Linked DNA regions of Homo sapiens: region 2 is reported to be linked to region 1. The links are microRNA targets in miRTarBase. Many come from high-throughput screens and were not tested one by one. Region 1 holds a microRNA gene; the other region holds the end of a gene's coding sequence.

Evidence for each region. Region 1 holds the annotated microRNA hsa-miR-199a-5p (CCCAGUGUUCAGACUACCUGUUC, at 1,871-1,893, shown strand). A microRNA usually pairs through its seed, bases 2 to 8, with sites in the 3' UTR of a target mRNA and lowers its output. Matches are read on the target gene's strand: a 7mer-m8 pairs with bases 2 to 8, a 7mer-A1 pairs with bases 2 to 7 and ends in A, and an 8mer does both.
Region 2: the mRNA of ETS2 is a reported target of hsa-miR-199a-5p. Seed matches in the 3' UTR shown: 7mer-A1 at 1,843-1,849.

What each region holds. Positions count from the first base shown.
Region 1 is chr1:172,143,329-172,146,484 of GRCh38, reverse strand. It overlaps MIR199A2 (microRNA 199a-2), which reads left to right and starts at 1,841; the gene lies at 1,841-1,950. The region is part of intron 14 of DNM3 (dynamin 3); the gene reads right to left. DNM3OS (DNM3 opposite strand/antisense RNA) reads left to right here and starts at 1,650. Exons shown (of 4, transcript NR_103486.1): 1 at 1,650-1,831; 2 at 2,048-2,120.
Region 2 is chr21:38,822,204-38,825,359 of GRCh38, forward strand. It overlaps ETS2 (ETS proto-oncogene 2, transcription factor), which reads left to right. Exons shown (of 10, transcript NM_005239.6): 10 at 471-2,752. The coding sequence ends at 686. Among named protein-coding and RNA genes, the nearest start is that of ETS2, 18 kb to the left of the region's middle. RefSeq lists an enhancer at 198-735.

The DNA.
Region 1 (3,156 bases):
GTACAGAGATATAAAGTCATTCCTCTGACTCCTATTGATGATATAAATATTTCTATGAATGGTGTACCCAGTGCTAACCTCTGTTCCATCCTAAGATGCCAGATAATTCATGTTTATCTTATTTAATCTTCCTCACAAGATAACAAGGGCTTGTCATAACTTTTGAACTCTTCAGTAGTGTGCTATTTAATGATTCAAAAGAGGCCATTTTATGAAAAGCAAATGCTTTAGGACAGTACTCACTTGAAGCTTTTTGAAATATACAATGCAGCGTATAAAAAAGAGATATATTTTTCTACTTCTAAAAAGTATTTCAGAAGGCCAGTGGAAATGAATTGCTTTGGCTGTACTTTCTTTAAAGAAGGCTAAGTTTCTTAGTCTGGTTGGTCAAATTAAATTTGGAAGCTACCTAGAAATTTTCTCACATTTTGATCTTCAGAAGGGCAATTAATCAAGCTCTTGTTTGAGGCGACTCTAGCTTTGATCAGAATCCTATGGAGGGAAAGTGAGAGAACTACATATTCAGAATATTCAAGAGTATATATAATTGAAAACAGCCACAACAGGGAAAGAAAAGTAGATGCCAGTGGGCTGATATCTTATAACCTTTGGTCAAGCGGTACTTGGCAAATTTCAACAGATTTAGTTAACCAGAGATAAAACTAAGCCACAGAATACCATGAAAACAAAACAAAAGTATCAAAACAGAATCAGGAATTACAAGTGAAAAACAATGCTATACCTAACAGCATGGATCTACCAGAGGCGATTTGTTAGAAGACCTGAGTCGTTGTTTCGTAGTGGATGCTTCAAACAAAAACTGTAACGTTTCTTTAGGTCAAACTATAGCACAGCATTCAGAGACCCAGCCAAAATAGCTGAGGGAAACTAGGAAGGCCACATGTGGAACTAATTACTCATGTAGAGGCCATGACAAAGAACATTTCTCCAGACTTTTCATGGGGGCTTCACTTTCAGGAAGTTGCTATAATTACTGTTCAAGTCTAGAGCAGCCTGCAAGCTGCTGACAGATTCAACAGACAGGAGAAGGAGGGAGAGAGAGAAGGAGAGAAAGAGAGAGAGAGCGGGAGGGAAGGAGGGAGGGAGGGAGAGAGAGGGAGGGAGAGGGGAAGAGGGGGAGAGAGAGAGAGAGAGAGAGACAGACAGACAGACAGACAGACAGAAACTTATCTGCCCTTTTTGACGAGTGAAATACCAGAAAATAAAGTGCCACAGGAAAGCTCAAAAAGGTTTCCAAATGAGCTCTGCCTTCCAGTGTTCAACTTTCTGTTTACTATTTCATCTACCCTCTATCTTCAAATTACTTCTCTAGCCTGGGTCAGACAGTAAATTTGTACTTCTACACTAACTCACTTTCAGTTGGCCACAGCCGAACTGTACATCTTGACTCTTTTTTTTTTACAGCTTTTCCATACTGGGGCCCACTTCCTGCCCAGTTGAGGAAAAAAATCTGGCCTGAAGATGAAATGACTGCTTAACGTTACACTAAAACATCTGGTACCATTTTATGCACAGACCCATGTCTGAGAGCAGGCGATTCTAGCGGTCTCTCCAGCGGCACAGCGCATACCCAAACCTCCCCAGGGTGACATCATCCCATATATGGACTCTCCAGCCCAGCCCTCCCCCTTTTCCTGGTCCTAAATTCATTGCCAGTTCCCCAGTCTGCAGCAAATGTGCCACGTCAAGACTGGAAATCACAGCCCTTGAGTGTGTCTCAGTCAGCGCAGCAGAATTCAGGGGGGAAAGCTGAATGCAACCCCTGGTGCAGGAAGGGAGGCTTTTCCTGAGGACCGGGAGAGGATTTTAAGTACATAGAAGGAAGCTTCTGGAGATCCTGCTCCGTCGCCCCAGTGTTCAGACTACCTGTTCAGGACAATGCCGTTGTACAGTAGTCTGCACATTGGTTAGACTGGGCAAGGGAGAGCAACGCCATGGACCGCTGGGGACAAAATGGGCTGTTTCCAAGGAGAAGACATTTGTTTGCTCCTTTTTTGAATCTCATATCCAGTGTTTTTCTTCACAGGTTTTGCACACTAGGGACCAAGAAGCCCTCGGGGACACTGCTGAGAAAAGACTGCCGAAGGGAAGACCAGCGGGTAAGGCCTTCTTGACTGCTCACCTGGTCTGTGACCAAGGGAACCTAGGTGGGGAGCCCATGATTTGTGTTAACATGCAAGGGAAACAGAGGTACATGTGTGATGGGTAGAGATGTATTTAATTTTAAAAGAGCAAAAGTGTGTGGTATATAGCGATTTACTGTTTTTTTTTTTTTTATTTCTGAAGATTGATAATTCAAGTGTTTTCTTAAAGGTTTTCCCACTTCAAAATGAAATATGAAAAAACTCATTCCAGACACTTAAGAATAGTTTAATGAGGCTACTTTTGAATTGTTTAATAATAATTCAAAGATTTAAAAACTTATATGGATGAAGGCTGTATGTATAACTTTTAACATCCCAGGACTGAAGTCATTTTTCCCCAAAGTAAAGAATACTTGCTGGTTTTTAAATGCTATATGGATAGTGCTTTTCTGAAGATTTCCTTCTGTAATATAAACAACAGGAATAATAGTACCTAACAATAAAAGAAGAACCTGCCAAGTCTTGCCTACCAGACAATGCAGATGGGATTTGCCCAGAGAAGAGCACCGACCCACAACTTATTGAGTCAGCAACTGAGTAAATCAGGGAATAAAAACCTCTATCTTTAGATACCCCTGTAAATATCTGTTTTACATTTTTTTTAAATCAAAGAGTGGTTAATAATTGCTGCTCAGCTGAGCCCTCTTGCCTATAGCTTACAATGCTTCCACTTCTCTGAGCATTTAAAATAAGGCACTTTGTCTAGAAACCCACTGATAAAAAAGGAATTTGTAAACGAAGGCAGAAGTTTTCTTTGGTCAGTTTCCAGCTGTCCTGGAGGTGAAAGAGGGTGGGAGAGGGGGAGGAAGGTGGGAGGGAAGAAAACCCTCAAGCTGAATGAAATCCTAATAGAGAAAATAATAGAGCAAGTCTGGATTGCAATGTGATCTGTGCTGAACTTTAGAGGTCGGCCCCTTAAAGAAAGTTCTGGAAAAATGTTATTGCCTCATCCCTAATTTTCTTAACCCCCATTAATTTCTATTCCGAAACA
Region 2 (3,156 bases), not on the chromosome of region 1:
GGTCTCTGGCACTGGGGAGCGTAATCTGTCACCATTCCCACCCCGCCTCCAGTTCCCTTGGGAGACAAGCATTGAGGAATGAGTATATCACACAGCTCAGAATCCCACTCGGCACCTGTTAACTTCAGTAGTTGGAATATCCAGCCTGGAGGGTGGGTGACACCACCTTTCCCTGGTCTCAGGACCCTCCTGGCTCTGAACCCTTGGCTCCCAGGAGGTTTCACTGAGCTGGGGCCAGGGAGCAGGGACCTCATTCCCCAGTGGTTCTGCCCCTTGGGGACACAGTGCCCCTACCATAGGTACTCAAAGGTACTCAGAGGTACTCAAAAGGTCCTCCTGCGGACCTTGTGTAGGTGTCAAGTTCTCTCTAGAGTGAACATGCCTCAGAATCATAATCAGGGAGGAATGTCATTCACTTTTTCTTCATTGACAAATTGAGTTTAACTCTTTTCCATCCATGTTCACCAAAGGTGGCCCGCCGGTGGGGAAAGAGGAAAAATAAGCCCAAGATGAACTACGAGAAGCTGAGCCGGGGCTTACGCTACTATTACGACAAGAACATCATCCACAAGACGTCGGGGAAGCGCTACGTGTACCGCTTCGTGTGCGACCTCCAGAACTTGCTGGGGTTCACGCCCGAGGAACTGCACGCCATCCTGGGCGTCCAGCCCGACACGGAGGACTGAGGTCGCCGGGACCACCCTGAGCCGGCCCCAGGCTCGTGGACTGAGTGGGAAGCCCATCCTGACCAGCTGCTCCGAGGACCCAGGAAAGGCAGGATTGAAAATGTCCAGGAAAGTGGCCAAGAAGCAGTGGCCTTATTGCATCCCAAACCACGCCTCTTGACCAGGCTGCCTCCCTTGTGGCAGCAACGGCACAGCTAATTCTACTCACAGTGCTTTTAAGTGAAAATGGTCGAGAAAGAGGCACCAGGAAGCCGTCCTGGCGCCTGGCAGTCCGTGGGACGGGATGGTTCTGGCTGTTTGAGATTCTCAAAGGAGCGAGCATGTCGTGGACACACACAGACTATTTTTAGATTTTCTTTTGCCTTTTGCAACCAGGAACAGCAAATGCAAAAACTCTTTGAGAGGGTAGGAGGGTGGGAAGGAAACAACCATGTCATTTCAGAAGTTAGTTTGTATATATTATTATAATCTTATAATTGTTCTCAGAATCCCTTAACAGTTGTATTTAACAGAAATTGTATATTGTAATTTAAAATAATTATATAACTGTATTTGAAATAAGAATTCAGACATCTGAGGTTTTATTTCATTTTTCAATAGCACATATGGAATTTTGCAAAGATTTAATCTGCCAAGGGCCGACTAAGAGAAGTTGTAAAGTATGTATTATTTACATTTAATAGACTTACAGGGATAAGGCCTGTGGGGGGTAATCCCTGCTTTTTGTGTTTTTTTGTTTGTTTGTTTGTTTGTTTTTGGGGGGTTTTCTTGCCTTGGTTGTCTGGCAAGGACTTTGTACATTTGGGAGTTTTTATGAGAAACTTAAATGTTATTATCTGGGCTTATATCTGGCCTCTGCTTTCTCCTTTAATTGTAAAGTAAAAGCTATAAAGCAGTATTTTTCTTGACAAATGGCATATGTTTTCCACTTCTTTGCATGCGTTTAAGTCAGTTTATACACAAAATGGATTTTATTTTTTAGTTTAACTGTGTTTCTCCGACAGCTCACCTCTCTCTGACCACCCAGCCATTTCCTTCCTGTGCTCCACGTTCTTCTGTGTGATTAAAATAAGAATATTATTTTTGGAAATATGCAACTCCTTTTCAGAGATCAGGAGGGATTTATGTAGCAGCTATTTTTACTGCAAAAGTAATTCACTGGAAAAAAAATGTAATTTGTAAGAAAGCTTTATTTTTATCTCAGCTCTATGTAAAGTTAAAGTTACTGTACAGAGCTGAAGGACGGGGGGCGGTAGGGGTCTTGATGAAACCTCTTGAACGAAGCACAGTTTGTCCCATCTTTGTTCACTCGTGTGTCTCAACCATCTTAATAGCATGCTGCTCCTTTTTGCTCAGTGTCCACAGCAAGATGACGTGATTCTTATTTTCTTGGACACAGACTATTCTGAGGCACAGAGCGGGGACTTAAGATGGGAAAGAGAAAGCATCGGAGCCATTCATTCGGAGAAAACGTTTTGATCAAAATGGAGACTTTTGTAGTCGTTTCAAAAGAGCACCTGAGTCATGTGTATTCCCGGCCTTTATAAATGACCCGGTCAAGTTGGTTTCAAAGTCCGACAGGCTTGTCTGTTTACTAGCTGCGTGGCCTTGGACGGGTGGCTGACATCTGTAAAGAATCCTCCTGTGATGAAACTGAGGAATCGGGTGGCCGGGCAAGCTGGGAAGAGCAAAGCCAGAGCTGCGCTGCCTCAATACCCACAAAAGACCATTCCCAGTATACATAAGCACAGGATGTTTTTCTCAAGAGGGATGTATTTATCACTTGGACATCTGTTTATAATATAAACAGACATGTGACTGGGAACATCTTGCTGCCAAAAGAATCCTAGGCAGTGGCTCATTGTATGTGAGGTTGAACCACGTGAAATTGCCAATATTAGGCTGGCTTTTATCTACAAAGAAGGAGTTTCATGGGGTTCAGCCTAACAGTTATGGAAACTACAGTCCTTATAAACCATTGGCATGGTAATAAACAGATCTTAAGTATAAAAATTTTGTAATTGGGCCTTTACTCTCTCAATAATAAAGTATTTTGTTTATATAAATTCTTTGTGATAGTCCTCGTTCTTCCTCTCCACACCCAGCATGAAGGAGTTGGAGGAAGGATGTTAACCCCAGATCCATTCTCTACTCAAAACATTCCATCATCAAGCGGCAAGTCTCTGTTTAACTGGTTTATACACAAGTCACTTAGAAACCACAACCCAAATTGGAATCAACTTTGAGCCCTTCCTAAAAGAATTCCCAAAAAGTGCTCTCTTTCAAAACAAAAAATTCTTTTAAGAAAGTGTTATAATAGAAAGATTCAAATGTCTTTCTTTGCCAGAAGCTTGGCAGAGATAACAGAGGAGAGATTCTGGAATGTTTATATTAAGTACATTAGAATTTGAGGTTTAAGTACTTTTGGAACTGAGGCCACAACACTCTGTCCCCTCAGTGGAGTCTGACA